2 linked regions of the Homo sapiens genome follow. The protein of the gene in region 1 purifies or fractionates together with the protein of each later gene. This does not show direct contact. Each region holds a gene or a part of one and is shown on either strand. Other genes may lie near its edges. The genes, in order: POLR3G and POLR3B.

Region 1 (12,259 bases):
CTCATATGTACTAAGCCATGAATGAACCTTGAAAACATTATGGCAAGTGAAAGAAGCCAAAGACACATGTTACATCATTCCATTTATATGACATGGAATCTCTAGAGACAGAAAGCAGATTTCTGGTGCCATGGGTTGGAAGGAGGGAGAGTAGGGAATGACTACTAAAGGGTACAGAATTTCTTTTCTAGATGATGAAAAGCATCTAAAAAATTAGATAGTGGCTGGGCACAGTGGCTCACACCTGTAATCCCAGCACTTTGAGAGGCTGGGGCAGGTAGATTGCTAATAGGTCAGGAGTTCAAGACCAGCCGGGCCAACATGGTGAAACCCCATCTATACTAAAAACACAAAAAAATTAGCCATGTGTGGTGGCACGTGCCTGTAATCCCAGCTACTTGGGAGACTGCGGCAAGAGAATCACTTGAATCCAGGAGGTGGAGGTTGCAGTGAACTGAGATAATGCCACTGCATTCCAGCCTGGGTAACAGAGCAAGACTCTTGTCTCAAAAAAAAAAAAAAAAAAAAAAAAAAAAAAAAAAAAAAAAAAAAAAAATTAAATAGTGGTGTTGATTGCACAACTCTGTGGCTATATTAAAAGTCACTGAATTGTACACTTTAAAAAGTAAATTTTATATAGTGGATTATGTCTCAGTAAAGCTGTTACTTAAAAATCAATAAAACTAGGCCCAACACAGTGGCTCAGGATGTAATCCCAGCACTTTGGGAGGCCAAGGCAGCTGGATCCCTTGAGTCCAGGAGTTCGAGACCAGCCTGAGCAACATGGTGAAACCCCCATCTCTACAAAAAATGCAAAAATTAGCTGGGCATGGTAGCTCATGCCAGTGGTTCCAGCTACTTGGGAGGCTACGGTGGGAGGATCACTTGAGCCTGGGAGGTGGAGGCTGCAGTGAGCTGAGATTATGCCACTGCATTCCAGCCTGGGTGACAGAACGAGATCCTGTCTCAAATAAAAATAAATAAATAAAGTTATTGGAGATTTTACTAAGCAATTAAGTATAGCAAATCCAAATTTATATTACATGTTTTACTGATTTTGAAGGTAAATTTAACCAAAATGGGCAAAGTCATTTGAATGCAGTTTTCTGTGCATCGGCTGCCACATACAAACCTAGAATATATGCCTTCTGTACGTCCTGATCCCAGATTCCAAAGACATCTTTAATAGGTTCTAACTTATAATTTCCTCTGGTTTTCTCATATGTGTATCATCTAAATAATTTCAGATTATAAATGCATTTCTAGTAGAATCTAGCTTATCACTACTTCCAATTCTTCTTCTTGTACTTACATATCCAAAATGCAATACTTTAAAAAACTTTGATGTCTCATACTTTTTTTTTTTTTTTTTGAGGCGGAGTCTTGCCCAGGCTGGAGTGCAGTGGCACAATCTCGGCTCACTCCCAGGTTGACTCCACTCTCCTGCCTCAGTCTCCCGAGTAGCTGGGAGTACAGGTGCCCTCTACCACGCCTGGCTAATTTTTTGTATTTTTAGTAGAGACGGGGTTTCACCATGTTAGCCAGGATGGTCTTGATCTCCTGACCTCGTGATCCACCTGCCTCAGACTCCCAAAGTGCTGGGATTACAGGGGTGAGCCACTGCGCCCGGCTGATGTCTCATACTTCTATTGAAGAGAGGATGGCCCAGCCATCTTCTTTGCTCTATACTTGCAAAATATTTTCATTATTAAATTTATAATCACCAGTTAACACAATCAATCCAGAAAACAATTTCATGTCTATATAATCAATTTCCTTTCAATCATTGTTGTCTTTGCCTTTATGTTCAGCATTTGTCAGTTACAAAACACATCAAATTAATTTTGGTGCACAAATATCATAGAACAAAAATGATCGTCTCATTTTAGCAAACAGGATGTTCCAGGTTTTTGTTACAAAGTATTACATGATGAGTTCTTTTTCAAAGATTGACTGTAGAAGGCCACCATAATTCCTTTTTAATTCTTGGAGATACAGTGTTTACTCATTGATTCTTGAATTTGAGAAAATTCATTGAAGACACTGTCATCTGAAGACTCACAGTCTGAGATTTTGCTTATACAATCAATTTCATCATCATCATGAGCATCCAGAGAGCTATCTATCTCTTTGCATTTGACTTCTGATTCGTCTAAGAATTGTGGAACATGTTTTTCTGTCAATTTTAGACATTATGAGCAAAAAATTAAAAATTTTTGAAATTTTCAATTGTATTAAATGAAAATTAAAACAGAGCAACTACAAACATAAGAGTCTCTGAAGACTTTATAACTTCTTAAAAAACAGATGTAATGCTTTGGACAACACCATAGGAAAACTATATGATGACATAATAGTGATAATTTATTTGAATTGCACAGTCAATTTCATCATTCTCCCATTTTTTAAATTTATTCTTTTTTTCAGCATAGTGGGGAATGTCTGATGAATAGTGATGAGATAATATGTATGATGATAAAGTAGCAAGGTATTTCAATATAGAGAAAAAATAAGATCACTCAGATTCCATAATTATTTTAGATATATAAAAGGGTCCAATGGGCTGATATGGTATTCTATGATAAAATGAGTTTTCCTTTTTAAGAAAATGTCTGTTTCTTCTTTAGAAAACCTCTATGCAAGAATAAAAGTTATCAATATTAATCATACAAACAATAAGAACTGCTCCAAAAAAAAAAAACGTCAAAAATTTATATTGGGTCTCATGGACACTGATGGTATATCAAGAATTAGTAAGCCAAATTCCATTTATTCAGTAACAGACCTGTGGATGTATTTAAGTAAATGTATAATTTCCATTAAGCTTTGAGGTTCTGAAAATGACTTATGACACTATCACCACTGTCAGAATCATGTTTCTACTTCAGAGGACCCTGTGGTTCAGGAACCTGAGCTGGGAACCACTAGACTAGACGATCTCTTATAGCTAAAATTCACTAAAATAATATTCATTGGTGTTTTTCCTTTATTATATAAATAACAAATTTCGATGCAAAGAAAATACTAATCATTTCTATAATCCTACCTGAAAACATTAAAAACAAACTTTGAAGACATCGCAACATGAAATATGTTCATTCCATGCCATCAGTTCTTGAGGACTGATCTCAATGCCCTGAGCCACCAGCCACTTGACTATCAGGAAGTCTTGAGATCTCTCACCCTATTTGTCTGTCCTAGTGTCTAGTGATTTAGTTCTTTACAGTAGCCCTTAAGTCTCTGTTTCCTAAAGCACACAGGTGGTAAGTGATGCACCTGGCGAAGGTACAGTCATGCAACATCTCTATCCGGAATATGATTCTCTCTGACAGTAGGGTCGTTCTCTTCAGTCTGGCCAATTCTTTTTCACTCATAGCATGGATATTATATAAATTTATGTATGCACATATATACACATATTATATAAACCTATATAGGCACATATAAATGTATATATTTTATAGAAAAACCTTTATTTTTAACATGCGTGTGTTTTTTAAACACTATATCAGGAAACAGAGGTAAGCTGGGTGCGGTGGCTCATGCCTGTAATTTCAGCACTTTGGAAGGCCGAGATGGGAGGATCACTTGAAGCCAGGAATGTGAGACCAGTGTGAGCAAAAAAGCAAGACTCCCGTCTCTACAAAAAAAAAAAAAAAAATTAAAAGTTAGCCGGGCATGGTGTGTGCGCCTGTAGTCCCAGCTACTCAAGAGGCTGAGGTGGGAGGATCACTTGAGCCCAGGAGTTTGGAAGCTGCAGTGAGTTATGATTGTCCCACTGCACTCCAGCCTGGGTGACAGAGCGAGACCTCATCTCCAAAATAAAATATAAAACAATAAAATAAAAAAAGACAGAAGTAAACATGAAGATCTCAGGGAGAATGTACTTGTATCAATTTGGAAATTTCTATACAAGAGTTTTCCCCTGAAAGAAATAAAAGCAAAAAAAAAAAAAAAACCCTTATATTTTGAAATACTTTATTGCATAGTTATCAAAGATAAAGTGCCCCTTAATCCAAGTACTAGCCAACCACTCCCATAGACCAACAACAAAATTATGTTTTTAATATCCCTGTCTAAAACACTCACATAAATGCTTTAATTATATGATATACTTTTTTTTTTTGAGACAGAGTCTCACTCTGTCACCCAGGCTGCAGTGCAGTGACATAATCTCAGTTCACTGCAACCTCCACCTCTCGGGTTCAAGCAATTCTCCTGCTTCAGCTTCCTGAGTAGCTGGGATTACAGGAATGCACCACCATGCCTGGCTAACTTTTGTATTTTTAATAGAGACAGGGTTTTCCCATGTTGGCCAGGCTGATCTCGAACTCCTGACCTCAGGTGATCTGCTTGCCTCAGCCTCCCAATGTGCTAGGATTACAAGAGTAAGCCACCGTGTCCAGTCTGATTTGACATACTTTTAAATTAGACATGTGCTTTAATAACAACCACATTCACCTAAGTGCATCTGTGTCATAGAGAAAAGATCAATTTTAAAAGCACTAAAGTATACCCTGCATTACTATTTTTTCTAATAAGAATGAATACTGATTAGTTCATTTGGTCTTACTTTTTAAAATCTTTAAAATGAAAAGTTTTATTTTAGAACTCAAACAGACGAAAGCATGCAACATCATCATGAGAGTTAAAAATTTCAGTATTAGGCCGGGCATGGTGGCTCACGTCTGTCTGTAATCCCAGCACTTTGGGTGGCTGAGATGGGCAGACCACTTGAGGTCAGGAGTTCAAGACCAGCCTAGCCAACATGGTGAAACATCTCTATTAAAAATACAAAAATTAGCCGGGCATGGTGCTGTGCGTCTGCAATTCCAGCTACTCAGGAGGCTGAGATGTGAGAATCACTTGAACCCAGGAAGCGGAGGTTGCAGTGAGCCGAGATTGTACCACTACACTCCAGCCTGGGTGACAAGAGTGAGACTCCATCCCATTTCCAAAAAAAAAAAAAAAAAATTAAGTATTTTTGAGATAAAATATTTCTTATCAAACCATTATATAACTTAAAGCAGCTATGTTTTGAGAATTAAATGAATTTGTCTAAAATGCTTCCTATAATTATAAGCACATGCTAAGATCATTACATAAGGCTTCCTTTTTTGACTCAGCCAATTCAAACTATTCTAGAGAGAGAGGAAAAATGGAATGCATTTTTAATACGAATGGAATGAGATGACACTACGAATTTCTCATGTTTTAATGATGTTGTTTTGAGAACTCAAAGATGATATCAGTCTCTCTAATCTCAACAATCAAGGGCAGAAAGTGAAAAATCAATATAGTACTGCTGTGCTAAACAGCTACTCAGGAATGGTTTCCTTTCCTATAAAACCACTTCCCACTTCTAGCCTGAGACTGTTGAGCCCTCTCCAACTATAATGTTTCCTTTCTTCCCTAAGCAGCACCAATGAATACATATTTTACATCATATCAAACACCTAAATGATAAACCAAACAAAATTAAGTCTCAAAAATTTTTTTAACCTAAATATTAAATAATCAGAGACATGCATAAAGGTTTATGTATAATGATAACAATCACGGCATTATATATACAAGCAAAAAACTGAAAATAATATTTAAAAAGCAGGAAATTAGTTACAGTTAATAATAATATATCCACAGAGTAGACTACCAGTCATTAAAAGTCATGTTTTCCAAGAATAATAAGGATATGTGAAAATGCTAATATGCTACTGAGTGAAAAAAGGAAGATACAAAGTAATGTGAATCTAATTTTGTAAAGAGAATATACATGCATAAGAAAAAATCTGGAATATATACTAAAATATTAATAGTGGTTCTCTAGACATAAGAATGGGTAATTTTTACTTTTTAAAATTTTCCTGTTTTTCATAATTTTCACTGAACATATAAAATTATAATGAAAGATATTTCTAAAAATAAAATATCAAAAAGTTTAAAGTATTTTTTCTGTTAAAGCAACATAAATAGCTTTTTCAAAGTAGTTGATAATTTTTTATTGAATCGAATCAATCAACATTAAATGATTATATATCTTGTGCTTAAACACTGTTTCATCTGTATACATTAAGCCACATAATCAAAGACTCCAATACAGTACCTTGTCTTTCTTCAGGTGTTTCAATAAAATAAGGCATTCTTTTCATTGTTTCTCTCAACTCCTGTTTCAAAGCCAGCATATATTCTTCACCTTCTCCTGTTTTCAGTGGCACTGGTTTATAATCTGTATCCTGTTTAAATTAAGAGACAAAGATTTTTTTCAAATCAATTATGTATTTTAATATCCCTTTTATCTGTATTATAGAAAACAGCAGTTTTATTGAAATACTATGTTTTACAGGCACTAAGTTTTACAACCAACTTAAAAGATGAACTTCTGTAGTCTATTTAACCTGTTAACCCATTTCCTACTTTGCTCTTCTATTAGAGGTAAGAAAGATGCGTAATTTTCCTATTGGCCCTGAAAACTACACCAATAATCATTTTGCCAAACAGTCTGTTGACCTATGTGATTATCTACTTTAAAAATTAAAGTACCAGGCCGTGCATGGTGGCTCACGCCTGTAATCCCAGCACTTTGGAAGGCCGAGGCAGGTGGATCACGAGGTCAGGAGATCGAGACCATCCTGGGTAACATGGTGAAACCCTGTCTCCATTAAAAATACAAAAAATTAGCCGGGCATGGTGGCGGGCACCTGTATTCCCAGCTACTCGGGAGGCTGAGGCAGGAGAATGGTGTGAACCCGGGAGGCGGAGCTTGCAGTGAGCCAAGATCGCGCCACTGTACTCCAGCCTGGGTGACAGAGCTAGAGTCCGTCTCACAAAAAAAAAAAAAAAAAAAAAAAAAAAAATTAATGTACCAAAAAAAAAAAGAAAAACTAAGGTACCCAAATGAGAGCAGCTGCTTTAGGTTCTTATTAACCTCAGCTAGTGGTGGTATTATTGGAAAAAAATAAATAAATAAAAAAGCAGCAGCTATCATTTAGTAAGTGGTTGCTATGACTACAATATACTCAATATCCAACATCCAGTATCTCATTGAAAGGGCTACCAATATTTATCCTTTTACAGTGAAGAAATTGAGAAGTGAATAAATGGCAAGATGGAGTTTGAAGCTGCATTTCAAGTTTTAAAAATTATACACACACATACATATACACAAATACGCGTTTGTATGTGTGTATATATTTACACAAATATGTTCATTAACAAGTGGATCTCCAGGGTACCTAGTAAAGACATTTCTGATTTCAGAGGATAAAGATAAGGTACATTTTCAAAATTTGATTAGGAATGTATACATTCATGCTGCAACTACTTATTGAGTACTCAACATGTTTAGACTATGGAGGATACCATGATAAATAAGTCAAAGTCCCTGCCCACAGGGAACTTACATTCTAGGAGAGCAACATACAACAAATTAGTAAACAAATGAGGTGACATACAATTTCACATAGTGACAAATGACATAAAAATAAATGAAGGTGGGTAAAGGAAAAATGACTGACAGTGCATGGAGGATGGAGGTGGAATCTATGCAGGGTGAGCATGCCTGGCCTCTTGGGGAGGTCACATTTGAGTAGAGATTGGGATAAAATCAGGGAGCCATCCATGCAAAGAGAAGAGATGGTTCCAGCAGAGAACCAGCAGGGCCAAAGGCCTGAGGACCCAAGGAGACCTGCGTAGCTGGGGAATGAGGACAGTGGTAGAAAAAGGGTCAGAGAGACATCAGAACGGAGAGATCGGGCAGAGCCTTTTACCCAGTAGTAAGGAATTTTAATTTTATTCCAAGTATAAAGAAATACTATGTACTAACATCCCCAGTGTTTAGAGGTAATCTCCTCACACATGGAAAAGAGCTTGTTTTTAAAAGCACTGTAAAGTGACATTATGCCAATACCTGAGATATTTGTCTTTGTTTTTATGCTGCGCTGAATATCAAAAAGGTAAAATACCAAGAGCAAAACGCAGAGACTCCTTGTGTGATACATCTAGATCCCTGGATACATTCTAAACTAAACATAAAGCGAAAACATTATATATTATGGAAATTAAGCTTGCAGCATACTCACTAAATTTTAAAACAACACTAAAATAAGCAAAAAAAGTTCAGTGGGGGAAAAAGTCAAGTGGTATACTAAGGAGCAAACTTAAATTCTATAGATACAAGATAAGAAAATCATTAAGTGAAGGTGTGATAGGGTGCGAACTGAGAACCATTATAAAACCTAATGACTTTTAAAACTATTATTTTCATATTGGAATTTATCAATAACACCAATACAAGTTGTAAGAATTGAAAACTAATTCTTTACTGGTTCACATAGTACTAAATATATTCATGGAAAGATGTATACAGTTTTGTTTTCTATATTTTAAGAAAGCAGATCATGAAAATATTTAAAGGTAAGTGAAACACACTCTCCTTTACTTTCTTATACTTGAGGATGCTATAATCATACATCCAGTCCCATATAGAATTTTAATATTCTCTGAAAAATGAAAAAACACACTATGAGAATTCAACTGTTCATATACTTACAGGAAATAGTGGGGGTGGTTTCAACACTACATCAGGTAACTTTTCACCTTTGCTAAATCCAACAGCCTCAATATTAAAGGTATAAGCAGCACGTCCTCTTCCTTTATTCCCAGCCATCAGAACCAGTTATACCAGATGAGTGGGCAAATTCTGAAAGGCACTATTAATGATTACGATTTACTGGATCACATATAAAAAAGAAATCAACACTTTAAAGCAAAATATAAAACTGCACCCCTTAAGTAGCACAGTTGACTTAAAATACTTTTGGAAAGCAAAACATGTACACAAATAAACATGTGACAACTGACTGTTGAACTGCTCACACTCACACACCTCTGGCAGGTAAGATAATGATGGCTTCAACCCCCTCACCCACTACTGCCCCACATCCAGTCCACGCAATTCACCCACCCTTCTGTGGTTTGGCAGTAGGATCTCAGATGTAATGTACATAAAAAGTGGACACAAGACAAGACCAGGCTGATGAGGAGAAGAAATCTTTCATGTCAACATAAAAACTATCATTAGTCATATATACTTTAAGACTTTAAATGATTTATCTTAGCATGTGAGTGTTTGGAAGAATCCCTGAGATCTAGTCCAATGTCTTCCTTCTAGAAATGGGAATGGGATCAATGAGACTCGAAAGATGCCTGTCCAAGAAAAAAAAAATTCAGAGAAAAACAGTTAAAATCATTAAAGTTATGATAAACCTGTACTCTTCAATTTTGGAGACAGGAGTGATATCACATATGCAAGTTGTATTGAACGTTTGAATCCTCTGATTATACTATGAGAACTGAGCTGCCAATGTATAAACAGGGATCCCTACGCTAGAGTTCTTTCAATAGAAGTCTGCATTCAACTGTAGTGATGATTATAATGCACATTCTTTACATTTCTTTCCCTGCTGATAATACTGAGCCTCATTTAACCCCTTGAACCCAAGAGAGAAATGGTATGTCCCCTGGACCACTCGGAGGAAGTCAGAGGAGTGGCATTGGTTTTGGCCCCATCAGCTCAGTCTCATTTCTGAATCTACTCACTTGCCCTCCTTGCAAAATTATGCAAGCCACAGTACTTCACACAGCTGCTCTACTCTTCACCAGGGTTTCTTGCCTGGTCATTAATGTTACCCTTCTTAGTCTACCACATTAATGGTGAAGGAACACTACGTAAAACCAACAAGGTGCTACGTCTTTATATCAATTTTACTGTCTACAATTTGAATATAGGCACTATTTTGGACCAAAAGGCTGAAAACTCCCAGCTCACTTTATCACAGGGCCAACACTACAAAGCAAGCGGCTCTCAGTTCTCAACCCTGGCTGCCATTAGAATGACTTGGGTGGCTTAAGAAACTAGAGCAATGGTTCTCAAAGAGTGCTGTCTGCAGCAGCATCACTCAGAACTTGGTAGAAATGCAAACTGTGAGTTCCACCACAGACCTAAAGAAAAAAGAAACTGTGAGTGGGCCCAGCACTGGTGTTTTAAGAAGCCTTCCAGATAATTCTATGTATGCTAAGTTCTGTGAATCACTGAACTGAACCAATCAATCCAGATCTCTTGGGGTGAGGATTGGGCAAGAGTCAGTTTTAGAAGCTTCCCAGGTGATTCTAATACACAGCAAATGTTAAGAGTATTGGTAGAACTGTTTTGGTGGAAGTCTTAGCTACTAAGGAGTAGTTGAGTTAAAATACACATGTAGAATCAAGGACTTCATAGATCTCATCTTTGAGGTTTAAAATTATAAAATTAGCCTTAGCAACTTAAAAATATTTGCCTTAAAGGTAAGATAACTATAATTGCTGTAAATCTATGTAACACTCAGGATGTGGCAGTCCAAGTTTTAATTCATTTGCAAGGAATAGCAGTAACAAGGCATTGCACTTTTAGACAGCCAATTTAATTTTTTAAATATTTTATTTATTTATTTTTTTCACTGCAACCTCCCTCCCTCACTTAAGCAATTCTCCTGTCTCAGCCTCCTAAGTAGCTGGGATTATAGGCGCGCACCACCATGCCCGGCTTATTTTTTTAGTAGAGACGGGGTTTCACCATGTTGGCCAGGTTGGTCTCAAACTCCTGACCTCAAGTGATCTGCCTGCCTCGGCCTTCCAAAGTGCTAGGATTATAGGCATGAGCCACCGTGCCCGGCCAATGGCACCCTGCCAATGATGGCCAATTTTAATGTCCTTCTACATTTAAGGCCCCAGAAGCAAATCATATATTCAACATCTTTATGTAATGAAACATCGTTTCCTGTTTTCTGTGAATTACTCAAGTAGAATGCACGGCATTTGATTTGACATAATGGCTATGATACTGAGAACATTTTCAGATATGATTTTGTAACTGCCCAAGGCGTTCACCCTGCCTGCTGTCTGGACAGAGCTGATTTATCAAGACAGGGGAATTGCAATACAGAAAGAGTAATTCACACAGAGCTGGCTGTGCGGGAGACCGGAGTTTTATTATTCCTTAAATCAGTTTCCCCGAAAACTCGGAGATCAGAGATTTTTTTTTTTTTTTTTTTTTGAGACGGAGGAGTTTCGGTCTTGTTGCCCAGGCTGGAGTGCAATGGCATGGTCTCCGCTGACTGCAACCTCCGCCTCCCGGGTTCAAGCAATTCTCCTGCCTCAGCCTCCCGAGTAGTTGAGATTACAGGCGTGCGCCACCATGCCTGTCTAATTTTGTATTTTTAGTAGAGACGGGGTTTCTCCATGTTGGTCAGGCTGGTCTTGAACTCCCAACTTCAGGTGATCCACCCGCCTTGGCCTCCCAAAGTTCTGGGATTATAGTTGTGAGCCACTGCGCCCAGCCAGAGATCAGAGATTTTAAAGTTAATTTGGTGGGTAGGGGGCCAGTGAACTGGAAGCGCAGATAGGTTGGCTCGGGGATGAAATCATAGGAAGTCAAAGCTGTTCTCTTCTGCTGAGTCAGTTCCTGGGTGGGGGCCACAAGATCAGAAGAGTCAGTTAATCGATCTGGGTAGTGCCCCCTGATCCATCAAGTGCAGGGTCTGCAAAATATCTCAAGCACTGATCTTTGGAGTGGTTTAGGGAGGGTCAGAATCTTGTAGCCTCCAGCTGCATGACTCCGAAACTATAATTTCTAATCTTGTGAATAATTTCTTAGTCCGACAATGGCAGTCTAGTCCCCAGGCAAGGAGGAGGTTTGTTTTGGGAAAGTCTGTTATCGTCTTTGTTTCAAACCATAAACTAATTTCCTCCCAAAGTTAGTTCAGCCTATGCCCAGGAATGAACAAGGACAGCTTAAAGGTTAGAAGCAAGATGGAGTCACAGTTAGGTTAGATCTCTTTCACTGTCTCAGTCATAATTTTGCAAAGGTGGTTTCACGCCCAAGAATGAACAAGGACAGTTCAGAGGTTAGAAGCAAGATGGGATCAATTAGGTCTGATATCTTTCACTGTCATAATTTTCTCAGTTATGACTTTTGCAAAGTTGGTTTCAATCCCTCCCTTTGGGTTTCATAGTTTTACATTATTCATTTCGTAAATTTATCCCTGCAGGCCTCCATATTTGAGTTTTCCTTCATAACTGCTTGAACACTAAAAGTTGATTTGTCATCTTTAATGTTGTCGTTTTAAACTACAAGTCTATGCCTTTTTTGGTTTACTAATACTTACATTTACTATACTTACATGCACAAAAGTCAGTATATTAAATCTCCATATACCCACTACTC
Region 2 (12,259 bases), on another chromosome or scaffold:
AGGACCTGCAGAAGCATTTGATTCAGTATGTTAGCTAAAAGTAATATAGTCCATGTTTCTCTTTATTATTTTAGTTTATCCCAAAATCAAAACATGCACAGAGGGGATAAGACTGTGAAGGCAGATTGAAAGACCTACCACCTCTCATGCTCATGAGGGGCTCTTTTTGAGCAGCTCCTTATTGTCCTTAGGTAGGCTCAGTCACAGCCAATTAGGAGTATACAGTCCATGACCTAATGTGGATTTTGACTCACTTATATTGGAAACACAAGCAATTGCCTAAACATCAAGCCAGGGAGTTTACATGGGTTTACTTCTATAGCACCCGCTACTCCCTGTGTCACGGTCCTTTCTCCTTTGTGTTAACATTGTTAGTTTCACTTGATTCTATTCCTTCTAAATTGTAAAATTCTGGAGGAAGGAAGGTTCACCATTGTATCTCAAGCTCCTAACATAGAGCCTTGGTTAGAGTACAGGCCCCATGAATATATGCTGAATTAATAATTACAACAAGTAAAAGATGTAGGGTCCAAAGTGTAGGAATTTATTATTTGGAAGAGATGAAAATAGGAGTCTGTATAGAGCTGCGATTTTTAGAAACTATTTAATTTATCTTAAACCATATGGAAATTGACACTAAAATTATCCAGTTTGTCAAATTTTGCATAATTTATATATCTTGAACTTTGAAACATTTCATTTCCCAGAGATTGCTTCAGCTAACTTCAAAAAAGTAGCTATTTTGTACATTACTGCAGCAGATGGTTCTAAGACCTGAAGATACAATCTTACAAGTCACCTGTCTTAAGTATTTTTTTCCTATTTGCTATATTCTGTCCTTGTTGGTATTTTTGTTTTAGAACTGTACCGGGTTGCATAGATGTTTAAAAAGATTTCTTTTCTTTTCATTTTGAAATAATTTTAGATATACAAAAAAGTGATGAAACTGGTACAAAGATTTTCCACAATCTTTCATCTAGATTCCCAACTGTGAACATCTTATGTAACCATAGCACTGTTATCAGCCTCATGACATTGAACAATACTATAATCTATGGATCTTATTCAAATTTTGCCAGTTGTCCCACTGTTGTCTTTTTTCTGATCCAGAATCACACATTGTTTTTAGTTGTCATGTCTCCTTGTCTCTTTTCATCTGAAAGAGTTTTTCAGTCTGTCTTTATTTACCTTTCGTGACCAAGAAACTTAAGGGCACTGGCCAGTTATTTTATACAGTCTCTCATTTCAGGCCAGAAGTTTTATATTTTTATGTAGCTGCATTTATTAATGTTTTCCTTTACTTATTTTATACAATGTCATCATAATGACTGTAATGTTCCAATGTCTGGGAGTAATTGTTAATGTAATCAGTTTTGTTGGGCATTTATGATGTCGTCAGCATTTACAATTACAAATAGTACTGTGCTGAGCATTTCTGTATCTAAATCTATTTTATATCCTTGCTTGTTATGAAGAGAAATTCCCCTGAGTTAAGGGATATATATATTTTTTAAAGGCATTTGTGCGAATCACCACAGTATCCCCTACAAAGTTGTACTGCTTTGCATTGCTGCCAGCAAAGTAGTGAGCTATTTTCAGATGTAAACTGTACTTTGTATTACTAATGTTCATTCTTAGAAATGACCATCTTTTGTTTTTTAGGCATGTGGTTTGGTTAAAAACTTGGCCCTTATGACACACATCACAACTGATATGGAAGATGGACCCATTGTTAAATTAGCCAGTAACTTGGGAGTAGAAGATGTGAATTTATTATGTGGGGAAGAGCTCTCTTACCCAAATGTGTTTCTTGTCTTTCTTAATGGTGGGTATATTATAGAGACATGTTGGTCCTAGATAGTCTGTGAAGAGGGGGAGGGAATCCATTATTATCCTGGTATTTAAAGCACAGATAGACTTTAATTCTGGGCCCAGGTTGACCTTCACTTAAAGGTAGAAAATACAATGATAACAGAAACAGTTACTTTGTTGGCTGGGTTATCCAAGGTTCTGAGAGGATATAGCTATCAGAGCTAAAGGGTAACTTTGCAGAAAGTGGCTGCTTTCTCCCCTTTTGCAGTTGCTGGCATATCCTTAGTGGAATACGGTTCAACATGGTATCTTTAAGTACAAGTCAAATATTGGAGTCATTCTGCAAAAATTATCAGATCAACTCTTATAATGAATTGACTTTGTCTAGCCATCTGATAATCAATATGTCAGCAGCCTGTGATAAGAGGATCCCTCTCCTTTGGCTCACACTCCAGTTATTTCTTTCATATACCTCTTCCCGTCTCCTTCGAAGTCTTCCAGAGACTTAGCAGCAAGTGTGCTCTCTTCCTTTCTGCTTTTGATTTGGTGCTGTGTGCCTGTTCTCTCCCTAGTATGCTCCATGAGCTTATCCCTTATCACTTGTCTGTTCTCTCTTCCTCTCCCCCTTCCTCTCATTCTAGGAGGCATTAACTCTTTTTTATATCTGCTGGTGAGGAAGGGGTCAGAGCCTCAGCAGGGCTGTTAACTGACTGCCTAGTTCATTGTATCCCAGAGGCTAACATTGAGTGAGCTTTTACTCTGCACTTTCACCCAGTGCCTCTTTGAATCCTCCCGCTAACCTTGGGAAGCAAAGTTCATTTTCCTCATTTCACAAATGTTGATTACAACAAGAAGCAGTTTAATAATAGCAGTTAGTAGGTGCTAGGCAGAATTCTCAGTACTTTAAATGATCAGCTCGTTTAACCTTTACTGCCAGCCTGTGGAAGTGATGGAGCCAGTGTTCAAACCCAGGTTGTTTGGACCCCAAGTTCATGCCCCAGCACTGTGCTGAAAGATGAGGAAAATGAAGCTGACTTTTCCAGTATTCCTCAGCCTGCATGTGGAAGGACTGGCCCTTAAGCATTCTTCCTTTGTTGCTTCCCTGCAACCTTGTGGACTGGCTGCAGGTGTTAATAATGGTATTTTCAAATAACTGCTTAGTGCTGATTACTATTTTTATTGGTTGGATATATTAAATCAGGTTGCATTTATTTTTTATTTCTGTCTTACCTGTTCTTTCTTTTTGCCTAGGTAACATCTTAGGTGTCATTCGAGACCACAAAAAGCTAGTGAATACATTTCGACTCATGAGAAGAGCAGGATATATCAATGAATTTGTTTCCATCTCAACAAATCTTACAGATCGATGTGTCTATATTTCTTCTGATGGGGGAAGGCTATGCAGGTATATATGCAGGTTACTAAAAAGAGTTTTTAAGAATCTCTTTATATTTGCTCTTGAAAGAAATAGACTTGTTTTTATTTTTGAAACTGTTTTAACCTCTTTCATTGTGAAGATAAATTTAATTCCGTGAGCAAACACTTCATGAATATGCATATTAGGTACCGAGGATTCAGATTAATGGGAGACAGAGTCTGCCCTCAGAGAGCTCAGTCTGCCGGGAAAGGCAGAAAAAATGACTAATAACAATCAACTGTGGTAGTGGTTAATGCTAGCCACCATTTGTCATTTTAATGGAGACACTATATGTGTAAGGCTTTAACTTCTTCATTCAACCCTATGAGGTTGGATTATTCTTGTCATTTAAGAAATGAGGAAACTGAGGTTCAGTGAGGCTAAGTAACTTACTGAAAGCTAAAGAGTGGTGGAATCTGTTTTTTATTTGAAAGTCCTTAGGATTCGTTTGACGCATGATTTTGCCCACTATAGTCTGTTGCTACAAACTGAGCTTTAAAGGAGGAGTAGGATTGTGTTAACTTGGAGGTAGGTGGGGAGGAGAAAGGCTGAAAAAAGGCAAGAATGAAAACATGGAGGCATGAAGAAATAAAATAACACTAGATCCAATGGAAAAGTAGGTTCCTTTTATTCATTCAGTAAGTATTTATTAAGGGCCTATTGTGCACAGGTACTATCTAGGAGCCGGAGGTACAGAGACGAATGTGACATGGTGTCTGGTTTGAGGGGCTATGCAGAGACATCAGCTGAGGACATTGCCTTGTGTCACAAGCCTTTTCTAGCATTACCGTAGTTATTCTGTGTATACCTCGGGTAGTGTTGAAGCACAAGGCAGTGAGCCAGCAGTAGCTGGAAGTCTGTCAGAGCTGGGAGAGTGACTGCATGCTTTCTTTCCTCCAGCATCCTTTCCTCCTTCATATGACACTACCTCATTTTCTTTTGAGGACTGCCTGTCCCCATTGGCAGGCTTCTTGGGATGGTCAGTCCAGCACCCTCTTCTCTTCAGCCAGGGGTTGGGCATATGACCCAAATGAGGTCAGTCAGACCCCCTCATCAGAGAATTTGAATCCCAGGTAAAATAAATCAAGGGAGGGAGGTGGTTGGACTTGATTCATTCTCCCAGTGCTACATGCAAGAGACTGCCTGTTAAACCTCATTTTCTGGATTCTTGGAACTGCTCTCGTTCCTTTTCTTTCTGAGGCTGAGCATTTCACCTTTTTCTTTGATTCTTATCCTTCCATTAAATTATTTTTTTTTTTTTGAGACAGAGTCTCACTTTGTCACCCAGGCTGCAGTGCAGTGGTACGATCTTGAGTCACTGCAGCCTCCGCCTCCCAGGTTCAAGCGATTCTCATGTCTCAGCTCCCCACCCCCGTCCCTGACCCAGTAGCTGGGATTACAGGCACACACCACTGCCCCTGGCTAATTTTTTGTATTATTAGTAGTGATGGGGTTTCACTGTGTTGGCCAGGCTGGTCTCGAACTCCTGGCCTCAAGTGATCCACCCACCTCAGCCTCCCAAAGTGCTGGGATTACAGGTGTGAGCCATCGCACCCAGCACCTGTAAATTCTTAATGCTTCCAGTAAACTTCATTTTTGCTTAAATTAGCCAGAATTGGTTTCTCTTCTTTGCAACCGAAGAATGGTTAGCTGATGATATACCTGTGTTTGAATCCTAACTTCCCACTTACTGAGTTGTGTGACTCTGAGTATACTACTTCAGTCTCTCAGCCTTGGTTTCCTTGGCTGTAAAATGGAAACAATAATGCCTGCCTAAGATTGTCCTGAGAACTAGTTGATAGAAGGTGTGGTAAGTGCTCAGTAGGGTGCCAGGCACACATTAGGTGCTTATTTATAACTTAATAGCATGGTCCAGTTAAGGGCAGGAATAACAGTGACATTTTCTAGGTTACTCTTTTTTAGGATTTCATTACATCCAACATAATATATATTCAAAAATAAAACTCTTTTATAGAAGCAACTTTATAATGGCATAACAGATCTAGCAGGAAAAAATAGTAGAATGCGTTGAGTAACGTAAGGATAACTGAGGCAGCTAAATGTGATCCCCTCCCTCTCCTCCGCCGGTTTCTGTCTTCTCATCTGAGGCTTAACCTGAATCCACTGCAGCGCTCAAATGAGGCATTAGTAGGCTCTGCTTCCCTACCAAGAAGGAGCCAGAATTTCGAGGTACTGTGGATTTCCATGAAAAGCTCACCCAGTTCATTTTTCAACAACTTGTGTTCCCCTTTTGTAATTGTGCAGCTCCTCTTCTTAACTGTTGAAAAGTGCTCATTAGTCCTCAAATAGTTATTTGGACTTTAGGGTAGAGCGCACAAGTGTCTGGTGGTTACTTGCTCCTCTCTGTAAGAGCTGCTTATCCAAATAGCAACAGCCCTTGACGTTTCAGTGCCGCATGCCATCCTTTGTGTCCGGGTTTCCTCATGGTGGCAAAGCCCTCCGAGGCAAGTCCCCACTGACAGTTACAGGTTAATCTGCCAGAATGCCTTCTCCACCTTCCACCCATTACGTCACTGAAAACCACAAAGTAAGAAAGCTTCATTCTCTGCCAACTTTTAGCCACTCTCTTTGGTAATGTGTAGCTTTAAGTATCTTGCTAACCTAGCTCAGTGATGTTTAGACTAAATCAAACTACTCTAAACATCTGGATATTCATCAGAACCTCACAACACAACGCCGTTATTACCCTAGGTGACAGTGCTTCTTTGCCTGTTAACTCCATGAGTAGTATGCAAAATTTTCCAATGTGAAATCGGGAAGTTTTTAGATTGATACATTACACCGTTTTTTAAAATATGGCATTAAAGGTTTTGTTTCCTTTTCAGACTTTGAGTATCATTTTTGTGTTGCCTTTTCATTCAAAACCAAATGTTTCCTAAGATACTTGCAGGAAGCACTGTGTGTGTGCATGAATATGTCCACACATACTCACATGTACACATGGGCTTGGGTATGTATGTGTGTGTATGTGAGAGAGAGCATAGTCCCCTACACCATGCTCATCCATACAAAAATTACCTGGTGTCCTCAGCAATCCAGGAATAGGTTTGTTTGTATTTACATCTTCCCTCATCTCACTTTGGTAAACTAACTTGCCTGTGTAATTTTTCCCTGGAACTATTATTAATTTGGTTTGCTGTTTCCATTCTAGACCCTACATAATTGTCAAGAAACAGAAGCCAGCAGTCACAAATAAACATATGGAAGAGCTGGCCCAAGGGTACAGGTAAGTAGCCAAAAGTAAAACTTACCAATCTCCTTAATACCCACATACATGATTTAAGAAAAGTGTATTTTCATTTTAGTGTTTTAATTTCTTTCCACCAAATTACCAGCCTGTTAAAAACCTATTTTGCTCCATGTGAACTTGCTTGGACATTGTAAAATATTCATCAATTTAGATCATGAGGGTTACCTAGTCTTGATGTCAGTTAGTACACAAGTAAGTGTTTCTGGTAAGAAAAGGACTTACATCATGTGTCAGTGTAGACACTGTGGGTCTCATTATGAGGTTTCTAAGGTCAGAATTTTTTTTTTAAGAAGTGGGGACTAGGTTCACAAGAGTTACAGACAGACACTTTGCTGTTTTTATTTCAGCAGTTTGTGGTTACTGTGTGAGCTAAGAATAACATGTTTCAGGTATCCCAATGTAATGATATTCTCTGGGAGAGAAAGGTGCTTTGGGCCTAAACGAAAGCCAGTATCTCCTGTTATTATATAAAATACTGCAGAAAAATGCTTTTTAATGATGTCTCTTTCACCAATATTTTCCCAGGAATTTTGAAGATTTCTTACATGAGAGTCTGGTTGAATATTTAGATGTGAATGAAGAAAATGATTGTAACATTGCACTGTACGAACACACAATTAATAAGTAAGTAGGATCCATAGCAACCATAATTAAAACGTGTTCTGACTATAGAAACTACCTTCTCTTTTACTGTCATCTTCAGTCCTTCTATCTTTTACTCTTTTGACAGGAACTGTTAGAAATATACAATCTTCTTTTTTTTGTTTGAACATGCAGGTTTGTTACATAGGTAAACGTGGGCCATGGTGGTTTGCTGTACCTATCAACCCATCACCTAGGTATTAAGCCCAGCATGCATTAGCTATTTATCTTGATGCTCTTCCTCCCCCAACCCCCTAACAGTCCCCCTGGTGTGTGTTGTTCCCCTCCCTGTGTCCATGTGTTCTCATTGTTCAGCTTCCACCTGTGAGTGAGAACATGCGGTGTTTGGTTTTCTGTTCCTGTGTTAGTTTGCTGAGGATGGCTTCCAGCTTCATCCATGTCTCTGCAAAGGACATGATCTTGTTCCTTTTTATGACTGCATAGTATTTCATGGTATATATGTATATTGTATATTTCTGTATGTACCATAAAGAAATATACAATTTTATAGCAGAGCATAACGCATCATTTATCCTAGTGAAGAGTATTACAAAGCAGCTAACAAGTCATCTTTAGATTTAATTATCCTTCCTATTCGTGTGACAGTTTATATATATACACACACACACTCATAGAAAGATATATCCATATATCCATATAGATAGATAACCATATATATATATGTATATAAAACCATATATATGTTTTTTTTTTTTTGAGACAAGGTCTTGCTCTGTCACCCTGAAGGAGTACAGTGGCACAACATAGCTCAGTGAAACTTAAAACTCCTGATCTCAAGTGATCCTCCCACTTCAGTCTCCTGAGTAGTTGGGATTACAGGCATGAGCCACCATGCCCAGCCTTAATGTGTATTTTTTAAAAGGAGTTGCTTCTCTGATTTTAATACTTGATTACTGCCAAAGTTGAACTAATGAATCAAGCTGTATAAAAATATACTTACCTCTGTTAGAGATGATTTTTGTCCATGGACATCTGAATTCTTGTCAGTGCAGGAATTCTCTACATAGTCTGTTCAAAAACTCTAAGTTTATGTGCAGTATGCACTTGAATTGGTAGTATGTTCACAATATTTCTTCTTGAACAATGATATTTTTAGAAGCATCTGTGTTCCATTTTAGAGTACATTAAAGAACATCTATGTAACTTGCTGTCTGATGCATGTGACTGATGTACCACTTACCTGAAATTGGAATTCTTGCAGATATATTGCTAGAGAGTTTAATACTACCACCTAATAACTATTTATGTCTTCAATCAAGAATAAGTACTTTTCTGACCCAGTGTAATGGCTCACCCCTATAATCCCAGTGCTTTGGGAGACTGAGGCAGGAGAATCGCCTGAGGCCAAGAGTTTGAGACCAGCCTGGACAACATAGCAAGACCCTATGTCTAAAAATAAAAATAAAAAATTAGCTGGACACAGTGGCACACACCTGTAGTCCTAGCTACTTGGGAGGCTGAGGTGGAAGGATCATTTGAGCCCAGGAGTTATGGGTTACACTGAGCTATGATTGTGCCACTGCACTCCAGCCTGGGTAAGAACCTATCTCTTAAAACAGGAAAAAGAAAAACTTTTCTGTTTTCTGCTACCAAATGAAATATATTACTTTTTAGAAGATTATAATTTACCAGCCTGGGTAACATGGCAAGACCCCGTCTCTACAAAAAACTTAAAAATTAGCCAGGTGTGGTGATGTACGCCTGTAGTCCCAGTAACTCAGGGGGCTGAGGCTAGAGGATTGCATGAGTCCAGGAGGTGGAGGCTCTGTGAGCCATGTTCATGCCACTGCACTCCAGCCTGGGTGACAAAGCAAACCCTGTTGCCAATATATATATTGCAAATATATATATTTTTTGCACTTTGTAAATAGTGGTTTTTGGTCAGAATTTTTCTTCCTTAAAGATGTGAATCTCTCAAAGTGCTATTTTATACCCCTCATTTCAAAATTGACTGAGGGCCAGGTGTGGTGGGTCACACCTATAATCCCAGCAATTTGGGAGGCTAAGGCATGAGGGTTGCTGGAGCTCAGGAGTTTGAGATCAACCTGGGCAACACAGTGAGACCTCATCTCTACTAAAAATAAAAAAAAGTTAGCCAAGTGTTGTGGTGTGCACCTATGATCCCAGCTACTTGGGAGGCTGAGGTGGAAGGATCACTTGAGCACAGTTTGAGGCTGCAGTGAGCTATACTTGGAACACCACTGCATTCCAGCTTGGGCGAGAGAGTGAGACCCTTACTCAAAAAAAATATAGATATAGATATGTATCCTGAGTATAAAAGAAAACTATTTTATAGTAGCCCCATAAATGACAGTTCCATCGTTGTATTACTCAAGCCAACAAAACTGTCTATTTCCGTCCTGACCCTTTTTCTCTATATTGACATCAATCCCTAGCTCATCACATGAGCCTTCCAAATACATCTGGAATCTGAACTCTTTTTCACTACCTCAATCCATCACCTAGTCCAGGCCATTTGTATGTCTTACCTGGATTTTTGCAAAGGCCTCCTGACTATTTTGACACCTGTTCCCATATAGTCTTTTCCTAATAGAGCAGAGGGGGCATGTCCGTTCTCTTCTCAAATCCCTCAGGGGCTGTCGGTCTCCCTCAGAAGTCCTTACAGAAGCCTTCCAGTTCCTGCACAATCTGCCCACTTCCATTTCTACCTCTCCCCACTCCCTGTTTCAACCACACTGGCCTCTTCTCCAAACACTCCAGGCGTGCCTCTGCCTTAGCACCTTTGCACTGGCTGCTTCCTCTGCCTGGAGCACTCTCTCACATACCTGCATGGCTCACTGCTTCACCCCCTCCAGGTCTTCACTTAGGTGTCACCTTCTCGTGAGATTTTTCTGACCACTCTAGTGAAAGTAGAAACTCTTATCTCTATCCACTCCTCTTTACTACTTTTTTTTTTTTTTTACTTCTTGTGCCTATTACCATAGAGTAAAATTGGTATTTTACTGATGTATCTATGTATTGTCTATCTTCCCTCACTTAGAAGCTTCACGAAGGCAGGGATTTTCATCTGGTTTTTCATTGATGTAAATGAATATAACTCTCAGCGTTACCCAATTACCAAGCTATTCCATACATCAAATTAATTTCATTTAAAAAATCTAGAAGTTTTTGTATTATTTAATTCATACTTATGTTTTTTAAAATATAGAAATGCATGAAGTACAAAGAATGAATCCCCTTCCTTTCCCATCCCACCAGACTCCACCCTCCAGAAGTTGCCGATGCTAATAATTTCTTATGTACTATTCTAGATTTTTTTTCTGAGTACAAACATACACACATGATTCCACACAATGTGTGTGTATAAAACAGTGATAACATTTCCAGTGCCTTGATTTTGAAACTTAACCAGTATACTCTGGACATTTTCCATATTAGTATATATATTTATATACATGTATATTTGTATACACAGTCTTATGTCACTTAATGATGGGGATGCGTTCTGAGAAGTTTGTTGTCAGGTGATTTCATTATGTGAATATCGTAGTGTACTTAAACAAACCTAGATGGTGTCTGTCACCCACTGTCACCTACTACACACATAGACTGTATGCTAAAGCCTATTGCTTCTAGACTACAAACCTGTACAGCATATTACTCTACTGAACATTGTAGGCAGTTGTAGCACAATGGTAAGTATTTGTGTATCAAAACATATCTAAACAAAGAAAAGGTATAGTAAAAATGCAGTATTATAATCGTTTGGAACCACCACCATTTATGCAGTCTGTTGTTGACCAAAATGTTATGTGGTGTGTGACTGTATACATATATATATTTTTTTAATTGCCATTTGTTATTACATTATCTACCTACACACATTTAGTTTATTAACTAGTTTCCTACTGTTGAATATTTAGGTAGTTTCCAATTTTTCTACTGTTATAAACAACAGGTTATTTAGTTTTCATTCGAACTAAATTTAAGTGCTTTATACACAGTGAATAAGAAATCTCGGCTGAGTGCAGTGGCTCACGCCTGTAATCCCAATACTTTGGGAGGCCAAGGCAGGCAGATCACCTGAGGTTGGGAGTTTGAGACCAACCTGACCAACATGGAGAAACCCTATCTCTACTAAAAATACAAAATTAGCTGGGTGTGGTGGCGCATGTCTGTAATCCCAGCTACTCCGGAGGCTAAGGTGGGAGAATCACTTGAACCCGGGAGGCGGAGGTTGCAGTGAGCCAAGATCGCACCATTGCACTCCAGCCTGGGCAGCAAGAGCGAAAATCCGCCTCAAAAAAAAAAAAGAAAGAAAGAAAGAAAGAAATCTCCCAATTCCTGTTCAGTTTCTAAACTGATGATTTTAAAGAGAATAATTTTTTTTTTTTGTAAAGTCAGAATCTAGAGTGTTTGGACTTCCAGTAATTATTAGATACTATGTGAGTTTATGTATGTTGTCACCATAAGAGAAAAAAACTTCAGATATTTCTTTTCATTTTTCAACTCAATCCAATGTTAACATCTGAAAAAGTAGTTTTTACTTAGATGGAAAATGTCAACTTGGCCAATATTTAAACAAAGCAGTATATTTAAAAGAAAATCTGTTTTCTTCTAGACTATAAAATGTAGCTATAAGCTGATGTTCTTTAAAGAAAAAAGCAAAACAAAACCTAGAGTATTTTCCCTTCCTGCTTAACAAAGGAAGTCTTTTCCCTTCCTGCTTGTCTGAGAGGATTGGGGTTCTGCTAGGTCATAAGGTGAAAACAGTACTCTTCAAACCAAGAACCACATGGAAGGCACTTTCTCTCACCAAACTAGGGACATAATTTAATACATGTGTTTTGGAAAAAAAAATAGGTTAATAACTGGATAAGTGGGAGATCTTTTACCAGGTACATTCCATTGATGGGCTGGGACGTGGTTTCTTGGACATCACTTCAGTCCACAGGTGCTGTAAACCACTGAAATTCTTAAGGTTACACTTCACAAACACTTGAGGGAAAAATAGCGGGTCCACAGAGATCACAGATCCTGGATGACACATCTGGTACTTTCCACAAATACCTATAATTAATCTGGGTACTCTTTCCTATTAACACATCTGAGTAGCTTCATCATTTGGCCAAAAA

Evidence for each region.
Region 2: the proteins of POLR3G (region 1) and POLR3B fractionate together in Homo sapiens (co-fractionation; 4 studies listed by BioGRID and IntAct, with this or other methods). This does not show direct contact.

Annotation. Positions count from the first base shown.
Region 1 is NC_000005.10:90,481,974-90,494,232, reverse strand, and holds part of POLR3G (DNA-directed RNA polymerase III subunit RPC7), read right to left. Parts: intron 9,205-12,259; exon of another isoform or gene 8,709-9,204; 5' UTR 8,666-8,708; coding exon 8,549-8,665; intron 6,234-8,548; coding exon 6,104-6,233; intron 1-6,103. UniProt on the Homo sapiens protein: DNA-dependent RNA polymerase catalyzes the transcription of DNA into RNA using the four ribonucleoside triphosphates as substrates.
Region 2 is NC_000012.12:106,430,656-106,442,914, forward strand, and holds part of POLR3B (DNA-directed RNA polymerase III subunit RPC2), read left to right. Parts: intron 1-1,662; coding exon 1,663-1,825; intron 1,826-3,063; coding exon 3,064-3,217; intron 3,218-6,401; coding exon 6,402-6,476; intron 6,477-7,025; coding exon 7,026-7,124; intron 7,125-12,259. UniProt on the Homo sapiens protein: Catalytic core component of RNA polymerase III (Pol III), a DNA-dependent RNA polymerase which synthesizes small non-coding RNAs using the four ribonucleoside triphosphates as substrates.